Linked DNA regions of Homo sapiens: region 1 is linked to region 2. Evidence: fine-mapped expression QTL. A gene starts in region 2. The other region holds a variant in brackets. All regions are shown on one strand. Distances are between the middles of the regions.

The links. PIP is the estimated chance that this variant, and not a neighbour inherited with it, causes the effect.
Region 1: its variant is fine-mapped to the expression of LURAP1 in nasal epithelium (TOPMed, PIP 0.94).

The regions. Positions count from the first base shown.
Region 1 is chr1:46,251,102-46,261,476 of GRCh38, reverse strand. It overlaps RAD54L (RAD54 like), which reads right to left. Exons shown (of 18, transcript NM_003579.4): 4 at 2,731-2,791; 5 at 1,378-1,513; 6 at 866-935; 7 at 462-750; 8 at 92-216. Among named protein-coding and RNA genes, the nearest start is that of RAD54L, 8.5 kb to the right of the region's middle. The variant T/C (reference allele first, on the strand shown) is at 4,760.
Region 2 is chr1:46,199,389-46,209,557 of GRCh38, reverse strand. It overlaps LURAP1 (leucine rich adaptor protein 1), which reads right to left and starts at 6,224. Exons shown (of 2, transcript NM_001013615.3): 1 at 5,934-6,224. The coding sequence starts at 6,131. It also overlaps a transcript of POMGNT1 not described here. RefSeq lists a silencer at 6,184-6,303.

The sequences.
Region 1 (10,375 bases), 52 kb before region 2:
CAGTGACTAGCACAGCCCTTGGAAGGCAATACTCAGTGAAGAGATTTTGACAGATTTTCTCCTACCACCCAGACTGCTGAGAGTCAAGTACCTCGTCACATATGACCAGACCAACACTTCCTTTCTGGAGGACTCCAACATGAAGGCGGAAGGTCTCATAGGAAATGATGAGGATGGGAGAAGACACCCTGGCTCCACGCTGGTTCATGAATCCTTCTACAACAGAAAAGGTGTAAAGGGAACAATTCAGAATCTTTTGAAAAAAAAAAAAACAAAAAAAACAATTAGACAGTTCTTTAATTTAGCCTGGAAACAACTGACTCCACTTCAACTATTTTCAATGGAAATTCTCTTTTCTTCTACCCCTGCATTGCCCTCCACCCTGGCCATAAATGAGCATACACGTAAGAAAGCAGCAGGCTGTGCAGGAGAGTGCAGCCATCTTTGTTAGGGCTCCGTACCCAGCTTTTGGTCTATTTCATCCTTAGATCCTCCATCGATGGCCAGAGGTTGGATCCTCCCTCCGAGCCATTTCCCAACCTCATTGTACCAGTTCTTCACCAGGCTGGAAGGCGACACCACCACTGCCTTGTCAATTTCTGGCTTGCACTCTGGACTCTGGCGTAAAAGTGTCCACATCAATGTGATGCACTGCAGCGTCTTTCCTAGGCCCATCTCATCAGCCATGATGCAGCCATGGCTGCCAGGGATGCGCCGACTGGTGACACACTCCCACAGGAATTTCACTCCCTAGAGAATAACAGCCTTCAGTCCACTTTGGCACCTACGCTGCTGCTGTCCCAGGGATGGTAGTCTCCCAGGCTCAGCCCATAGCCCATACCTCGTTCCCCTCACCCTCATTTACCTCTCTCTGATGAGGCCGCAAAACCTTACTGAGAATAGGGTCAACAACCACATGGACAGGGAGTTTCTCCCTGAGAAAACACAGCAAAGAAAACAGCGTGCTCAGACATGGGCAAGGGAGCACCCTCAGGAAGCTGTGTCCTGCTGATCCGGAGGCAACAGAGGCAGCTGCCTAAAAGAAGACCTTCTTGGCTGATAAATCGTAAAACCATAGCAAGTTCCTACTTTAGGAGTTAGAAAGTTAGCTCAGAGAGGGATGGGTTCCCTGTGTCATCACCTCAATCACTCCTCCTCCTGAGTGAGCATCCTGGGAAGGCAGGAGGGGATGAGGAATGCCCACTCACTGGACATGACCACAGGCTCTTCCCCAGGCAGTCTCCTTCCCCAATCATCTACTCTCTGAAAACATATGTCAATCCTAAAAAGAAATCACACCAAAATACCCTCTGCCCTCCCAAGTATGCGTGCATATACAGAGAACCAAAACTGCTTATGAAATACCAGTGCACATACTTGTCAAGCTTCAGCTGGTCATGAGCGCTCAGCGGGGGAGGCTCATACAGAACCAAGGCATCTTTTTCCAGGGGGTCATGGAGGGCCCGGCGGACCCCAGCCCTTTTCAGGCCCAATGCTCGAGAGCCCAGAGGACCTACAAACCAATAATCATTCCGTCACCTGAATCTATGTTTAGGAGCTCCAGCAAGCCCAGCTCAAATACTTGTCCTTCACATAACCTTTCCCGAGCTCCCATATGACCCTCTCTCTCTGAGAATGCCTCCAAACTCAGTTTGGGCATCTCTATATGACCATTATCCCATTCAGCTTTTTTTTTTTTTTGAGATGGAGTCTCACTTTGTTGCCCAGGCTGGAGTGCAGTGGCACAATCTCGGCTCACTGCAACCTCTGCCTCCCAGGTTCAAGCAATTCTCCTGCCTCAGCCTCCCAAGAAGCTGGGATTATAGGCTCCCACCACCACACCCAGCTAATTTTTGTATTTTTTTTAGTAGAGACAGGGTTTCACCATGTTGTCCAGGCTGGTCTTGAACTCCTGACCTCTGGTGATCTGCCCGCCTTGGCCTCCCAAAGTGCTGGTATTACAGGCGTGAGCCACGATGCCCAGCCCCCAGAATTTTTCTGCTTTGAATCAGAGCTTTTCCCGTTTTATTTCTCCCATTCAATTACAAACTTCTGAGGTGCCAGATCTGGTTCATTTCAACTCAAGACAATCCTGGGAAGGCCTGAAATTCTAAAGGGCACTTTCATGGAGCTTTCTGAGAGCTCCTGAGAGCTGGCCACAGCCAAGCGTAGTATCTCAAGCCTGTAGTCCCAACACTTTTTGAGAGGTCGAGGTGGGAGGATCGCTTGAGCCCAGGAGTTCGAGATCAGCCTGGCCAACATAGTGAAATCCTATCTCTATTAAATTAAAAAAAAAAAAAGAGAGAGAGAGAAAGCTGGCCTCCCTATTCCTCCAAGCCCCAGTTTTAGCATAATGCTGTACCCTACATAAGACAGGGAAAAACCTTATAGAATCCAGGCCTCCCACACAGTCAGCCTCATAAAAGGGATGCTACTGAATGCACTTGGATTGAATGAAGCCCAGGTCCATCAGCCATCTTGGCCCACCAGGAGCTTTCTGAGCACCGGGACACCTCTACCAAGAAGATGAGGGGCAGTTAGTCTTGGCAGCCCTTACTGAGGCTAACACAGTTTTCATGCAGGCCTCAGGAGGGTCACCCCAAACACAGCCACCGCTGGACTGGCACCTTCAATTCCCAGCTAAGCTTGTATTTACAAAAGCAGGTTTTTAATTTATTCAGGCACACGTACATATGACTGATTTCAAAAACAGAAAAACCTCCATTTTACCTTGATAATTTGGAATGGGGACTTTGAAAGGCTTTGACAAAATGCTTCGAATAAATGCTTCCTAAAAAGAAAGGAGAAACAAGGATTCAGGACTGACTGGAGATGTTATGGGACAATATCATGATATGCTTCACATTAGGTTTTGTACAACAGCATCCATCTTCGAGGCTTTATGTAAGGTTCTACAAATATCCAGGGATAGCAGAAGGGCCCAGCCTCAGTCAACCACGAGGCTTAGAACCCAGGAAACCATTCACTCATTAAAAACCATGCCAGTGAGCATACCTAGCTCTTCCCTAGGGTATAGCACCTTGGAAAGCAAATACCACAGACTTAGCCAACCTGAGTAATAATGGATAATTCTAATGTCTGGGTTTAACCACTGTCATATAGGGTTACACCTTCCCAAGCACACCTCACAATTCTTTTTTTTTTTTTTTTGGCTACATCAGTTATGTCTAATATATCTAATACTCACATCAGCCTCCTTGGGAACTAAACAGCTCATCAAAGAGTAGTGATGGAGAAATGGGAGCCATCGTATTAATAAAATAATATTAACAACACCAGGCCGGGCATGGTGGCTCACACCTGTAATCCTAACACTTTGGGAGGCCAAGGCAGGAGGATCACTTAGGTCTGGGAGTTCGAGACCAGCCTGGGCAATATAGCAAGACCCCATCTCTATTTTAAAAATATATATTTAAAAATATAAATAAAAATAATGATGGCTACCAATGTATGCTAGACACAGAGCTAAGCCTCTTGCATTCATGTTACCATTTAATCCTAACAGCTGTATGAGGTCCATATATTACTGGTGTTTCCATTTTACAAATGAGCAAACTGAGGCTCAGAGTGATTAAGTCACTTTCTCAAGTCACAAAGCCATTACAAATGCAGGACTTTCCTGGTTCTAGGGTCCTTACTTGTACTCAGTAGGCAACGTGGCCTCTCACCCACTCTGAGTACAGCCATGCAGATCAGCCCAGACCCAGCAGCTTCCTGCCATGTAAAGCACAAGAGAAGGAACATGAGAAAGGGACATGAGAGAGAAGCTAAGCCCAACACTAAGAAAAAGCAAGTGGGACAAGGGTGACAGCAGGTAGACATATGTGGGTCCTAGAGAGGTAGCACTGGTGACTCCTCCACCTAAAGGCAAGAAGCCTCTGTACAAGCACTTCTGCCTTGAACCAGCATTATTCCATGGGCTATGGGGCTGGGGCAGGGGCAGAGAAGGCAGAAAAATTAACACTGAGCTAACTCTGACAGCTCCCATGGAAGTTCTGGTCCACACACACCTGAGCCCTTTGCGGAACTGTGATAGCCTGTGAACCTCAACAAAACCAGAGGTGGAAGCCAAGAGAGCAGAGAAATAAAGAGCAGAGACCCTGAAGGTAGTTTTAATGGGAATATATTAGTGGAAAAAGCAGTAATGAAAAAATGTCCCTTCTAGCAAAAAACATAGTCTAATAGGAAAAAAAGCAAGCCTGCCGTGATATTTTTACCTTTGTTTTCTGACTCATTTCTTCACACATCATCAATGTCTAGAAATTCAAATGTACTTTATTTGTTTTTTGGGGTTTTTTTTTTTTTTTTTTTTGAGATGGAGTCTTGCTCTGTTGCCCAGGCTGGAGTGCAATGGCACAATCTCAGCTCACTGCAACCTCCACCTCCCAGGTTCAAGCAATTCTCCTGCCTCAGCCTCCCAAGTAGCTGGGACTACAGGCACACGCCACCACACCTAGCTAATTTTGATATTTTTAGTAGAAACAGGGTTTCACCATGTTGGCCAGGCTGGTCTTGAACTCCTGCCCTCAAGTGATCCGTCCACCTTGGCCTCCCAAAGTGCTGGGATTATAGGCATGAGCCATCACACCTGGCCTCAAATGTACTTTAAATTTAAAAAAAGTAATGAATTTTTTTTGTGATATTAGAAGACAGAAAACAAGTATGTAGAAATGAACTTCCTTATCACACTAAATAACATGACAACATCACACTAAATAACATAACATAAAGGCAAAGT[T/C]GGCAAAAAACTCAAATGCTTTTGTTTATTTGCAAATTTCTTTGCATCTGAATAAAATCTTTTATTGACTTTTTTTTTTTTTAAAAGACAGGGTCTCATTTTGTCGCCCAGGCTGGAGTACAGTAGTGGTGATCATACCTCACTGCAGTCTCTAAGTCCTGGCTCAAGGGATCTTTCTCTAAGTCCTGGCTCAAGGGATCTTTCTCACCTTGGCCTCCCAAAGTGCTGGGATTATAGGCATGAGCCATTATGCCCAGCCTTTACTATTTTTAATTAGCATGACTGTAACTATGAATAGCAATGATAATCATTATGAAAAATGCTAACAAAAAGGACCCTTGGCCAGTGCAGTGGCTCATGCCTATAACCCCAGTGCTTTGGGAGGCTGAGGTGGGAGGACCGCTTAAGCCCAGGATTTTGAGACCACCCTAGGCAACGTAGTGAGACCCCCCCACACACCCCGTACACAAAATTTAAAAATTACCCAGGCACTGTGGCACATGGTCCCAGCTACTCAGAAGGCTGAGGCAGGAAGATCACTTGGCCTAGGAGTTCAAGGCTGCAGTGAGCTACAACTACACCACTGCACTCCAGCCTGGGTGACAGCAAGACCTGCCTCAAAGGAAAAAAAAAAGCTACTCTTAAGTCAAATGAGAGGAAAAGGAGATGGACCCTAATTTTCTTTTTAATTTGGCATCAATTCTAAAACAGAAATATTTTCAAAATTATCAGTATAGAAGGCTAGATTTGAGGCTCTGAGTAGCCAAGAATTTATGCCCTAAATTTAAAAAGACTTTCAATAGAACACAGGAACCATAGGTTCTGCAGGGAGAACTACAGGCTTGCATAACTGGTAAGGAAGAATGTGGAGACCCCTGGCCAAAAATGTCTGAGGGCTCAGCCTGCAAAATGGAATGGCCTGCTGGGCACAGTGCACGCCTGTAATCCCAGCACTTTGGGAGGCCAAGGCGGGCAGGTCACCTGAGGTCAGGTGTTCGAGATCTGCCTTGCCAACATGGTGAAACCCCGTCTCTGCTAAAAGTACAAAAAACTGAGCTGGGTGTGGGGGCGGGCACCTATAATTCCAGCTACTTGGGAGGCTGAGGCACAAGAATCACTTGAACCTGGGAGGCAGAGGCTGCAGTGAGCCGAGATCGCGCCACTGCACTCCAGCCTGGGTCACAGAGCAAGACTATGTCTCAAAAAAAAAAAAAAAAAAAAAAAAGGAATGGCCAACCTTCAGGGATCTGGTTTGGTGACTCACCAGTCTCTATAGCAGGGGGCAGGGGAGGGAGCATGCTCTTATTCTCTGTTCATTTAGTTACTGATAATTCATACCAATCTTTCCTTCTGATAGATGAGAGACAGCATCCCTCCTCCCCACCAAGGCTAAAGCTTCCCATTTCTGCAGAGAATCACTCTGTTATGACTGATCACTCTTGTATCTCAACCTCTCCCTCTCTACTAGCTCTTACCAGCATTTAAAATGGACTTAATTATCTCCTATCTTAAAAACAAATATTCATTTGATTGCTTATCTCTCCTCTCCACAGGCAAACTTCTAGTAAGTTATATAGCTCCCCTTCTTTCCTCCCACTCTTCCTGTCTTCTGCCCCTTCCACTCTGGCCAAGATCACGAATGGCCTACATGACCCTAATTCCAATGGACATGTATCTTACTTGACGAAGCTGACCACTCCTCAAATATTTTCTGCCTTTGATTTCCATGACACTACTCTCCACCTTTCTGGGATCTCATCTTCAGTCCCCTAATGAGCTCTTTTCCCTCTGCCTTTTAACCCTCAACCCACCCCCAGAGCTCAATGCTCCCAACCGGCTGCAGTGACTCACGTCTGTAATCCCAGCACTCTGGGAGGCCAAGACAGGAGGATTGCTAGAACCCAGGAGTTTGAAACCTGCCTGGGCAACACAGTGAGACCTGGTCTCTACATATCATTTAAAAATTAGCCAGGTTTGGTGGCACACGCCTGTGGTCCTAGCTACTCCAGAGGCTGAGGTGGCAGCAATACCCGAGCCTAAGATTGAGGCTGCAGTGAGCCGTGATCGCACCAGTGCATTCCAGCCTGGGTGACACAGCAAGACCCTGTCTCAGGAAAAAAAAAAAAAAAAAAAAGTCAGTGCTCCCCAGGGCTCAGGGTTTAGCCCTCAGATCTTCTGACTACCCATTCACCAATCCACTTACCAGGTATAAAATTTATCTATGCTAATGAGTCCCAGGTGTATTTCTAGTTATACCTTACTCCACATCCACATTTACAACTGACTCCAGACCTAGATCTCCTGCAGGGACTTCAAAATCATCATGTCTAAGGCTGAAGTCCTCATCTCCAAGGCCACACTATGACTCTTGTGGGCCCCAGGCACTTTTGCCTTTGGGACCCCTTCCTCCATTAAAAAAAGAAAAAAAAAAGAAAAAAAAAGAGGCCAGATGCAGCAGCTCACACCTGTAATACCAGCATTTTGGGAGGCTGAGGCAGGCAGATCACTCAAGGTCAAGAGTTCAAGACCAGCCTGGCCTACATGGTAAAACCATGTCTCTACTAAAAACACAAAAATGTGCCAGGTATGGTGGCGGGTGCCTGTAATCCCAGCTACTCAGGAAGCTGAGGCAGGAGAATCGCCTGAACCTGGGAGGCAGAGGTTGCAGTGCGCCAAGATCACGCCACCGCACTCCATTCTGAGCGACAGAGCAAGACTCCCTATCAAAAAAAAGAAAAAACAAAAACAAAAAAGACTGCATTGGTATAAAGATAACTATAATAATATAATCAGGCTGGATTACTATGTATTTTTTTTCTTCTGATTTCAAAAGGAATTAAAGATCACCATCGCTCTCTAAGTGCAGTGTTAGCTCACCAAGCTCCAGCTGAAGGAGAATGGAGATAAGTAAGCAGGTGAGCCAAGACAGCACCACTGCAGCACTCCAGCCTGGGTGAGAACACAAGACTCTGTCTCAAAAAAAAAAAAAAAAAAAAAGAGTACCTAAGTATATCACTGTGAGTAGAAAAATAGGGGACAGAAATCCGGTATTGCAGTTTGCAGTTTTTCCATTTTCATTTTTTGTGTGAATTCTTTTTTTTTTTTAGACAGAGTCTCGCTCTGTCACCAGGCTGGAGCGCAGTGGCACAATCTTGGCTCACTGCAAGCTCCACCTCCCGGGTTCATGCCATTCCTCAGCCTCTCGAGTAGCTAGGACTACAGGCGCCCGCCACCACACCCAGCTAATTTTTTGTACTTTTTACTAGAGATGGAGTTTCACCATGTTAGCCAGGATGGTCTCAATCTCCGATCTCCTGACCTTGTGATCCGCCCGCCTAGGCCTCCCAAAGTGTTGGGATTATAGGCGTGAGCCAACGTGCCCGGCCTTTTGTGTGAATTCTTAATATAAATGTAGGGATGTAAAGCATTAATACAAGTCAAAATGTTTCAGTGAACAAGTTTCAGCACTTCAATTTTATAACAACCATAAACAAACCTGTTCATATCTTCTGGACAATGGATTTTTTAAAATACAATTTCTTATTGACAGCAACTAAACAGTGTTAGTAGCATTCTTATCATACAGCAGATTCTACCCATTAACTATACTTTTCTGAATTTTCCTATACGCAAGTATTTTTTTTCCTTTTGAGACAGGGTCTCTGTCACCCAGGGTGGAGTGCACTGACAGTATCACGGGTCACTGCACCCTTGACCTCCTCAGCTCAAACGATCCTCCCACCTCAGCCTCCAGAGTAGCTGGGACTACAGTCACGTGCAACCACATCCAGCCAATTTATTTATTGTTTTTTAGAAATAGGGTCTCACTATGTTGTTCAAGTTGGTCTCAAACTCCTGGGCTCAAGTGATCCTCCTGCCTCAGCCTCCCAAAGTGCTGGGATTACAGGTGTGAGCCACCACACCTGGCCTGCAAGTACATTTTTAATGTTGTCTATCTTCTGTTCTATTCCTGTAACTTTGCTATTAAAAGAGAATAGCTCTTGTATAATACATTGAACTTCATGGGCCTCCTGATTACAGTGCCTGCCATCTCCCTCCCACCAAATGCCATTCTTCTTCTGTGTTCCCTATCTCAGCAAATGACACCACCATCCATCTACCTTGCCAAAGCCTAAAATCCCAACTTCATCCTCAATTTTCCCTCTCCCCACATGTAATCAATCCCAAGTTTTTCCACTTGTAATTTTTAAGTATCTCTCAAAATCCACCCACTTCTTCCCATTCCCCATTCCCCTAAAACCCATGTCCAGGCCATAATCCTCTCTTGCTTGGCCACCTGCAATAGCTTTCTCACTAGTTTCCCTACCTCCAGTCTCTCCCCATCCAACAAATATTCTATACTGCTGTTACCTCCTACCCCCACTTAAAACACTTCTAAAGCTCTTCAGTGACCTTAGTCCAGACTCTCCTAGCATGGCTTCTGAAAGGCCTTCCACTCTTAGCCACTGCACAGCTCTCCAACTCTCATCTCTCACCACCATCCCCCAACTCCCCACACTCTCTTTTCAGTACCTGCCTCTATTGCTGCCAGTCTTTCCAATAAGCTGTTCCTTCTATTAGAATGTTTTCCACTCCCTTCACCTGTCTAACCCCTCATATCTTTCAGGACTTAACAGCACATCTCTCAGAGGCAGGTCTTCCCCAATCTCCAGACCCATAGGTCTCCTGTTGTGCACTCCCACAACTGCACTTATGCCATGTAGTTACACAGGACAACTTTGAACAAATCCTGAATGAAACAGTCCCAGAGGATTACACACCATTTTAACACCATTTTCTTTCTTTTGAGACGGGGTCTCGCTCTGTCACCCAGGCTGGAGTGCAATGGTGCCAATCTCAGCTCACTGCAACCTCCACCTCCTAAGCTCAAGTGATCCTCCCATGTCAGCCTCCCAAGTAGCTGGGACAACAGGCACACGCCACCATGCCCAGCTAATTTTTTTTGTATTTTTGGTAGAGATGGGGTTTCACCATGTTGCCTGGGTTGGTCTCAAACTCCTGAGCTCAAGCTATCCGCCTACCTTGGCCTCCCAGAATGCTGGGATTACAGGCATGAACCAACATGCCCACCCAACACCATTTTTTAAAGTTCAAAGAACCAATTAAACAATGTATTAGTGATTTTTTTTTTGAGGTGGTCTCACTCTGTTGCCAAGGCTGTATTAGTGATTTTTATATGTATGCTAAAACTATCATAAAAGCAAAAGATGATGGATAAAATTCAAGATAGTGATTACCTCTGGGGATGGGAAAAGGGATTATGGGTTTGACAATGTTCTAGTCCTGGATGATGGGTTCACGGGTGTTTGTGTTTTATAACTTATGTAATATATCTATATTTATCAAGTATTACACAAAACTGTTGTTTTTTTGTTGTTGTTTTGGGGACGGATTTTCACTCTTGTCGCCCAGGCTGGAGTGCAATGGCATGATCTCGGCTCACTGCAACCGCTGCCTCCCGGGTTCAAGTGATTCTCCTGCCTCAGCCTCCCAAGTAGCTGGGATTACAGGCATGCACCACCATGCCTGGCTAATTTTCTCTGTATTTTTAATAGAGACGGGATTTCACCATGTTGGCCAGGCTGGTCTTGAACT
Region 2 (10,169 bases):
AAAAAAAAGAAAAAAAAAAAGAAAACAACAACAGAACTTACATCTCCAGTCTTCTGCTAGATAAAGAATTAGGTGGCACCTGGTTGCACAGTTAGGGAGGGGATCTTAGAATATGACTTTTAAACATTCAACCAGCCCTTTTGTTTTCAGCCCCACTTGTGCCCCCAGTTCCAGAAATACCTGGTGCTTCCAACCCCTAAGACCTTTAAGGGTTTTTGCAGTATAAAATGTGTTGCTTTGGCAGGGGGCGGTGGCTCTGTAATCCCAGCACTTTGGGAGGCCAAGGCGGATGGATCACCTGAGTTCGGGAGTTCGAGACCAGCCTGACCAACATGGAGCAACCCCATCTCTACGAAAAATACAAAATTAGCTGGGCATGGTGTCACATGCCTGTAATCCCAGCTACTTGGGAAGCTGAGGCAGGAGAATTGCTTGAATCCAGGAGGCGGAGGTTGCGGTGAGCCAAGATTGCGCCATTGCACTCCAGCCTGGGCAACAAGAGCAAAACTCTATCCCCCACAAAATAAAAAAGTGTTGCTTTTCAGCTTTCCCCACTGCTGGCTCGGGACTGAGCATTTTTTAGGTCTGAGTTAGTTACCACTCTTCCTTCTGAATTTCAGTTTCCAAAATTTTGTTCCTATTACCTTGTCTCTTATTCTCATTGTCATAACGGCTTCATGCCTTTTATTTATTTTATTTATTTATTTTTCTCTTTTTGAGACAGAGTTTTGCACAGTCGTCCAGGCTGGAGTGCAGTGGCACGATCTTGGCTCATTGCAACCTCCGCCTCCAGGGTTCAAGCGATTTTCCTGCCTCAGCTTCCCTAGTAGCTGGGATTACAGGTGCACCACCACGTCCAGCTAATTTTTGTATTTTTAGTAGAGATGGGGTTTCACCATGTTGGTCAGGCTGGTCTCGAACTCCTGACCTCAGGTGATCCGCCCGCCTCGGCCTCCCAAAATGCTGGGATTACAGGCATGAGCCACCGTGCCGGCCCTCAATCTGGTATCTTGAACTGGAATTCCCACTGACTTTATTCATTCTTCAAGCCCCAGCTCAAATGTCACCTCCTCGAGGAAGTCTTCCTTGCCCTTCCTCGAGATGGAATTAATCCATTCAGTTATGGAACCAATATTTATTGTTTCTTATTGGTGTGGCACTATGTTCGATGAAGAAAGAAAAGGCATCATTTCTTACCTTCAGAAGGTTCATAATCTAGTGGGTAAGATAAGACAATGAAGCAAGCACTTAAAATTCAGTGTGGTTGGCTTGGCATTGTGGCTCAGCCTGCAATCCCAGAACTTCGGGAGGCTGACACAAACGGACTGCTTGAGGCCAGGAGTTTGAGACTGGCCTGGGCAACATAGCAAGACCCTGTCTCTATTAAAAAAATAAATAAGGCTGGTGGGGTGGCTCACACCTGTAATCCCAGCACTTTGGGAGGCCAAAGCAGGCAGATCACTTGAGGCCAGGAGTTCAAGACCAGCCTGGCCAACGTGGTGAAACCCCATCTCTACTAAAAATACAAAAATTAACTAGGCGGGTGCCTGTAATCCCAGCTACTCAGGAAGCTGAGGCAGGAGAATCGCTTGAACCCGGGAGGCAGAGGTTGCAGTGAGCCGAGATCACGCCATTGCACTCCAGCCTGGACGCCAAGAACGAAACTCCGTGTCAAAAAAAATAATGATAATAAATAAATAATTTAAAAATGAAAAGTTCAGGCCAGGTGCAGTGGCTCATGCCTGTAATCCCAGCACTTTGGGAGGCCGAGGCAGGCAGATCACGAGGTCAGGAGATCGAGACCATCCTGGCTAACATGGTGAAACCCCGTCTCTACTAAAAATACAAAAAATTAGCTGGGTGTGTTTGCAGGTGCCTGTAGTCCCAGCTACTCGGGAGGCTGAGGCAGGAGAATGGGCTGAACCCAGGAGGCGGAGCTTGCAGTGAGCCGAGATCGCACCACTGCACTCCAGCCTGGGCGACAGAGCGAGACTCCATCTCAAAAAAAAAAAAGAAAGAAAGAAAGAAAGAAAAGTTCAGTGTGGCAAACGCTAGTGGAAACAACTGCTATACAGAGGACTGTAGATACCTAGAGGGCCATAACCTAACCAGGTCAGGAAATGCTTCCTAGGATAAGGGACATGAGCTGAAAATTTAAGGTTAAGAAGGACTCAGCTAGGATGGGCGCAGTGGCTCACACCTGTAATCCCAGCACTTTGGGAGGCTGAGGCAGAAGATCACTTGAGGTCAGGACTTCGAAACCAGCCTGGCCAACATGGCAAAATCCCGTCTCTACTAAAAATACAAAAGCTAGCTAGGTGTGGTGGCACATGCCCATAGTCCCAGCTACTCAGGAAGCTGAGGCAGGAGAACCGCTTGAGCTTGGAAGGCAGAGGTTGCAGTGAACCGACATTGTACCATTGCACTCCAGCCTGGGTGATGGGAGTGAAACCCTGTGTCAAAAAAAAAAAAATAGAAGGACTCAGCCAGACAAAGAGGTGGAGAGAAGCATTTCAAGCAGAGGAAACAGCCTGTGCCTCCTTCCAATTTGAAATCGACTTTCTAGAGCACAAACCCAACCACATCACTCTACAGTGAAGACTCTTCCAGGAGGCCCTTCCTGGGTTCTACCAGCACTTATCATCCTGTACTAGAAATGTTCTTCTGTCTCCTCCTTCCCTAACCAGACTGTGAGCTCCCTGAGAGCAGATCCTGCCCAATCCATTTCTGGTGCTTGGCCCAGTGCTAAGGAGGTCACATTCAGTTCTGTGATTCTCTTGCCTTTACTATCCTTGACCCCTTTGATGGTTCCCAGGATTCAGGGGTCTGGGTTGTAGTGTGTTGCTGGGAAATAAATCTGAGAGCAGATTCTATAATCCTGTGGCAGTGGGATTCCCTGACTGTGACAGCATCACTCCCAGAATAGAAGAAAGCAAGGTTTTCTTGCCAGAAAAAGAAACACTCTTTTCACACCATCTCTTGAAGAAAATAGAGTATAGGATAAACAGCTCAGGAGAGATGCAGCCTCAGAGGCGACTCCAAACCCAATTCTCCTTCCAAGGAGATTCAGGCTCCCTACTCCTCTCCTTAACATCTACATACCAGACTCTCTGCCCAGCGCTGGGGTCCTGTATGGTTTCCTCATTGCTCAATATAAATCAGGCCCTAGGGTAAAAGCCTGGAAATCCCAGTCCGAGCTCCCAGAGCGGGGACTATCAGAATATTGTTACTATAAAGGTTCTTAACAATCATCTGGTTTCACAGTCCCCATCTCCCTCTACCCCCTCCACCAAAAGGAGGAAAAACTGAGGCCAGGAGAGAGACAGAGTGCTGCTCAAGACCACAAAACGTTTCAGAAGCAGAGCCAAGACTTGAACCCGTGCATTCTTCCTTGCCTAAAGCTTTTTCTCAAACTGCCTCTGTGGAGGTGGGTTGTCATAGCAACAGTTCTTTGGGTGGGAGAACTAAGAAGAAGTTGCCACTGTTTCCCATTCCCACATATCCCAGTCTGGCTTGTTCACTCAACCTTTGAATGGAGGGTAGAGGAAGAAAGCAGGAGGGACGAGGCCTAGAGGCAGGACTGACCTTGGCCTCAAGGGTAGGCCTTCCCCCTTTGTGCAAGGAGAGCTGGGAGAGGAACAATTGAAGGACAGTCCTTAGAGGGCTTGAACCAGTCCTGCCTTCAGTAGCCCGAAGGCAAATCCCTTGCCCCACCCCTTGTCCTTCCTGGGTGCAACCCAGTAGGCAGGGCAGAGCACAAGAAGAGATTAATATTAATAACATCCTGGCCTGAGGAAGGAGAAAAAATAGGATGGGGATCTCTCCTCATTCTGGCCCCAGAAGGCTCCCTCCCTTGTGCCCTTTCTCGGGCAGCCTCAGGCCCCAGGCAAGCTGGGTCAAGAATACAGAGAGACAAAATCAAAAGTTAAATGCAGCCCCTTAAAGTTTACAGATAGTTTCCACCAAGGCAGAGAAGAGAGCCAGAGACTGGGCGTGGCTCTTCCACTGACTCCCTATGTGAGTTCAGAATCTGCAAGCACGTTTTATCTGTAAGATGGGAGAAATGATGACCAGTTTTCTCATTTCAATGACATAAAATGTTCAGACTATCTGGCACAAAGCAGGTCTCAAAGTAAAGATGCAAAGTGCAGTCAGATGATCTGGGTTCAAATCATGGCCCTGCTTTTTGCGTGATGTTGGGCAGTTATTAAACTCCCTGTGCCTCTGTTTTCTTTTCTTTTCTCCTCCCTCCCTCCCTTCCTCCCTTCCTCCCCTTCTTCCCCTTCTTTTTTTGAGACAGGGTCTAGCTCTGAGCTCTGTCACCCAGGCTGGAGTGCAGTGGTGCGATTTCAGCTCACTGCAACCTCCTCTTCCTGGGCTCAAGTGATCCTCCTGCCTCTGCCTCCAGAGTAGCTAGGACTACAGGCACACACCACAACACCCATCTAATTTTTGTATTTTTTGTAGAGACAGGGTCTTGCTTTGTTGCCCAGGCTGGTCTCAAACTCCTGGGCTCAAGCGATCTGCCTGCCTCGGCCTCCCAAAGTGCTGGGATTACAGGCGTGAGCCACCATGCCCACCCTGTGCCTCAGTTTCTCCATCTATAAAATATCACTTAACAGGGTTACTGTGGAGATGAAGAGAGCATCATGTAAAGTGCTCAGCAAGCTGCCTGGCACATGCACTGGGTGAAAGTTTTCAAAGCAAGTAGACAGTCTAGATAGGCTCTTACTAGGCCTTGAGCTAAAGTTTGTACAGTGAGGCAAAGGCAAGCCCCCGCTTAGGTGGGTACAGTCACAGCCTTGCTCTGGAGAATTGGGCACTCACCTCCAACCTTCAAGGCCAAGTGCACACTTGGCATTCAAGTCCTTCTCCCAGGGGGCCTTTCCTGACTGCTCCACCCACCAGACTCTCTTCCCAGCCTCTCAGCTCAGGCGTCGGAGCCCTGGCTGGTCTCAGAGCCCCCATGATTTCCTTCCCCTTCTCCTTCACAGACCAGCTTGGCACAGGCTGGGCACACAGGAAGACTTTAGCTGACGTACTCACTGTGGGCTCCTGGTTGTGAGCCAGGAAGCCGATGGCAATTCCTCAGTTCCCCAGAACTGGCTGCAAAGTAGTGGCAGGTGTAAATCACCCACTTCACCGGAATCAGGGCCCTGGGGAACCTGCCAGGGCCTCGGCTGCCCTTTTGGCTCTGAATCTAGACCAGCAGCAATAGAGAAAGGGGAGGGTTGCTGTTTCCTCTTCTCCCCAAGAATGTACAGATGAGATCCAAATATCCAGTTTACCTGGAAGACTGGCTGGGAGGAGACTGAGTCTGAGGCGAGGGAATCAGCACCAGTGGTGCTGCTACTCTCTGTCCCTGCTATGGGTCTAGGAACTTTCCATTATTTTAAGTAGGGCTGGGGGATGTAGAGGAAACGGAGAAGGTTTTCAGTGCCCCTGGTCCAGGTAGTTTTCAGCAGATAGGCCCCTTTACCCACTTCTTTTCTGTGCGGAACACTGCGGCCTCACAGGAACTTAAACCCTTTCCCGGTTAGCAGAAGGAGAAAAAACCGGTTGCCTTACAACGGGGACTGGCGGGGAATAGGTGGCCCATACAGGCGGGGGGAATTTGTGCTGCGTTGGGTTCTCAGTACTTCCCAGTCCTCATCTCTCTCCTCCCAATTATTTGGCAGGAATAACTTCCAAAACCCACTGCTCCCAACCCAAGTCCTCAGGACCATCAACACCCCACTCACTCTTGGGGGACAAGTAATGGACGTCACTCCATCTCCACCCCAGCGTTTACGGATTGATCTGGGAGGGATTCTGAGCAGTTAGGTGGAGAGTTTTAACTACCTCCTCTCCAGCTTAACTCTGGGAGCATGAGTTCGTCCCTCCCGGCCCTACACTAGGGACTCGTCCCCTTGGCCCATGGATTCAGCACTCACCAGCTCCATCTTCAGCGCCATGATCTTGTCCCCCAAGTCGTGGCCGGTGCTAGACGCCCCTGGGAGCAGCAGGGCGCCAGAGGTTCCCAGCTCACACTCGCCTCGCAGCCCGCGGAGCAGCCCTTCAGGGGTCTTCCTGCCCACCTTACCCTCCACATCCCGCAGGTCAGGCGTCTGGGACTCCACGGTCCCCTCCATGCGGGCCCAAGCCTGAAAAGGGCTGGGCGACCGGACGCCGGGGACCGGCTCCCGGGGGTCCTCCCTTCGCCGCTGCTAAAGCGGAGCAAAACCGGTGGGTCCCCGCCCGCGCGGCGCGGGGGCGGGAGGAGGGCGCCGTAACACTCAGAAAAGCCGCGCAGCACCGTCTGTGGATGTATTCGAGTGCTGCGCACACAACCTCTGGCCCTGGATTGCGTGGGGCTGGGCGATTCTGGAGTTGGACCTGAAAGAGCACTCGGAGACCTCAGCGCCTTCGCCCCACCCTGGCACTGAATCCAGCCAGGCACACAGCAGGCGCCCAATACATGTTTGCAGAATGAAGTCTAAGCAGCTTCAGTCAGAGATGTGGGAGTTTAAGGAACAGCGGTAACAGAGAGCTGCAGAGGGCTTGGAAGTCTTCCTGGAGCAGAGGAATTGGGTATAAAACGATGACTGGATTTTAGCTAGACACACACACACACACACACACACACACACACACACACCACCCCCCCCCCCCAGGGGCTAGAATTCAGGCTAACGGAGTAGAAAAGGGCAACCAGTACTGAAGCTGAAGAGGTCCACGTTGGGCTTACAAGCAAGATGCTCCTTAAGCTTGACTGTGCGTATGAATTATCTGCGGATCTTGTTAAAATGTAGGTTCTGATTTTGTAAATCTGGGGTGGGGCTTGAGATCCTGCATTTTTTTTTTTTTTTTTTTTTTTTTTTTGAGACAGAGTCTCGCTCTGTCGCCCAGGATGTAGCGTGGTGGCGCGATCTTGGCTCACTACAAACCTCTGCCTCCCTGGGTTCAAGCAATTCTCCTGCCTCTGCCTCCTGAGTAGCTGGGATTACAGGCATGCGCCACCATGCCCAGCTAATATTTTTGTATTTTTAGTAGAGACAGGGTTTCACCATGTTGGCCAGGCTGGTCTTGAACTCCTGACTTCAAGTGATCCGCCTGCCTTGGCCTCCCAAAGTGCTGGGATTACAGGTGTGAGCCACTGCGCCCAGCCAAGATCCTGCATTTCTAATAAGCTCCCAGGTGATGGCCATGCTGCTGGTCCACACTTCAAGTAATAAGGGACCACACTTTGAGTAACAAGGTTACAGAAAATGGTTCTGAGATGTTTGGGTTTTATTTAACAGGTAATGAACAGCCATGAAAACTCTGGTTTGTTTAGGCTTTTAATTCAAGTAATTCCAGCCCATGGTTGCAGAAGGATTTACAATGAGAAGATAGTTACCCCTACCCTACCCTTTCACACCTCTAGGCCCACTCCCAATTGGCAAAAAATAACTTTTAGTTTTTTTTTTTCTTTTGGTGTTCATACCCATAACGTTATTGTTTAGAGTTAACTAAAAGTGGTTGCCAATTGGGAGTGGGCCTAGAGGTGTGAAAGGGTAGGGTAGGAGTAACTATCCTCTTATTGTAAATCCTACCACTATTTTTTCTTTTTTAGAGACAGGGTCTTCCTACATTGCCCAGGCTGGACTCAAACTCCTGGGCTCAAGCAATCCTCCTGCCTCCCAAGCAGCTGTGACTACAGGAGTATGCCACCATGCCCAGCCACACTACTTCTCAATTTTAAACATTCATCTGCTGTTTATTGTCCTATTCAGATAAATATGGATATATGGGTTTAACTCACACTCTGTAGTTCCTTTCCCCCATTGGCAATATATATTTCTTTTCTTTTCTTTCTTTTTTCTTTTTTTTTTTTTTTTTGAGATGGAGTCTCACTCTGTCGCCCAGGCTGGAGTGCAGTGGCACGATCTTGACTCACTGCAACCTGCCCTCCTGGGTTCAAGCGATTCTCCTGCCTCAGCCTCCTGAGTAGCTGGGATTACAGGCACGTGCCACCATGCCCGACTAATTTTTGTATTTTTAGTAGAGACGGGGGTTTCACCATGTTGGTCAGGCTGGTCTCGAACTCTTGACCTCGTGATCTGCCTGCCTCAGCCTCCCAAAGTGCTGGGATTACAGGTGTGAGCCACTGCGCCCGGCCTGGCACTACATATTTCTATCACTCTTTTTAGTTCATCTAAGGTTACCTTTGTAATTAACTTTTTTTAAAATTTAGATAGAGTCTCGCTATGTTGCCCAGGCTGGTCTCGAACTCCTGGCCTCAAGCAATCCTCCCACCTTAGCCTCCCAAAGTGCTGGGATTACAGGCATGAGCCACCATGCCTGGCCTACCTTTATAATTTTAAGTAACATCATTTTCCTTGGTACTTTTTGATCCATGGAAGGGTTTTAAGTTAGAGATAGACAAAACATTTGTCTTTTTTTTTTGAGACAGAGTCCGGCTCTGTTGCCCAGGCTGGAGTGCAGTGGCACCATCTTGGCTCATTGCAACTTCTGCCTCCCAGGTTCAAGCCATTCTCCTGCCTCAGCCTCCTGAGTAACTGGAATTACAGGCACCTGCCACAACACCCAGCTAATTCTTGTATTTTTAGTAGAGACGGGGTTTCACCATGTTGGCCAGGCGGATCCATCCGCCTCAGGTGATCCACCCGCCTTGGCCTCCCAAAGTGCCGGGATTACAGGCATGAGCCACCGAACCCGGCAACATTTGCCTTAAAGAAAATCACTCTGGATTTTGCAAGGAGAAAAGGATAGGAGGAGTAAAAATCTAGAGTCAAGGAGACTGGCTGGAAAGCAAGAAACTGAAATGGCCTGCACTGGGGCTGATTGTGAGGTCAAAGAAGAATTAGACTAGAATGGAAGGCTCTTTAGGAGGTAAGACTGACAGGACTAGGTGACTGGTTACATTCATTTATAGTGGCATTCAATAAAAATTTGTTAAAAAATACAAATGAATGATTTCAACAAATGTTACGGAGAGCTTACTATGTGCCAGCCTTTGTGTGTGGTGTAGAGAATACAATGGTGAGCAAGACATACCTGGACTGGTCACTGGAGACAGACAAGGAGTCAAGGGTGACTCCCAGCTGTTTGGCCTGGTGCAGTTCACTGAGGAGGGGAACCCACAGGAAATCTAGGAGTGAAAGGAAATGATTCCAGAAGTTGTGCTGTTGCGTTAGAGGGGCCTGTGAAGATGTCCTGCTGGACATCAGGCAGCCTGGAGCTCAGGAAAGAGGTTAGAACTGCCAATGTCAGTTTGGGCATCTAGATTGGTAACAGAGGTCATGAGAGAATGAGATCATCCATGAAGAGTCAGTTTGAGGAGAAAAGAGGGTCAGGAAGGAACCCTGAGGGACATCTTTTAATTATTTATTTTTATTTTTTTATTTTTTGAGACGGAGTCTTGCTCTGTCACTCAGGCTGGAGTGCAGTGGTGCAATCTCAACTGCAACTTCTGTCTCCCAGGTTCAAGCGATTCTCCTGCTTCAGCCTCCTGAGTAGCTACGATTATAGGCGCCTGTCACCACGCCCAGCTAACTTTTGTATTTTTAGTAGAGACGGGGTTTCACCGCGTTGGGCAGGCTGGTCTCAAACTCCTGACCTCAACTGACCACCCCACCTCGGCCTCCCAACCTGCTGGGATTACGTGAGTCATGGTGCCCAGCCGGGACATCTTTTCAAATGTAATAAAATGTGTTGGGTTTTCTTCCATTCTTATACATACTTACTAGGAAAAATCATGTATTTCTTTAACTCCTAAGACAAGTACTGTTAACATTTCATTTTGGGGGATATTACCCCACCATTCAGGAAGCAGATGGAATACAGAAAGCTCAAAAAAATCTAACTGGTCTTCTGGCTTCCTCTGTCTGCTTCCAACCCATTCTCCACAAAAAAAGTAAAGGTTCTCTTAAAACAGAAATTGGATTATATTGCTCCCCTGCCTAAAACTGTTCTATGGCTATCCACTTCAAACAAGCATCAACATCACCTAGAAACTTCTCAGGAATGCAAAATCCCACCCTGCCCCAGACCACTGAATCTAAAACTCTAGGGATGGGGCCCAGCACCTCTGTTTTAAGAAGTCATCCAGGTGATTCTGACGCAAGCTAAAGTTTGAGAACCATTGTGTTAAGCTAACTGCTTTCTATGTATGATGTTATTTAAAC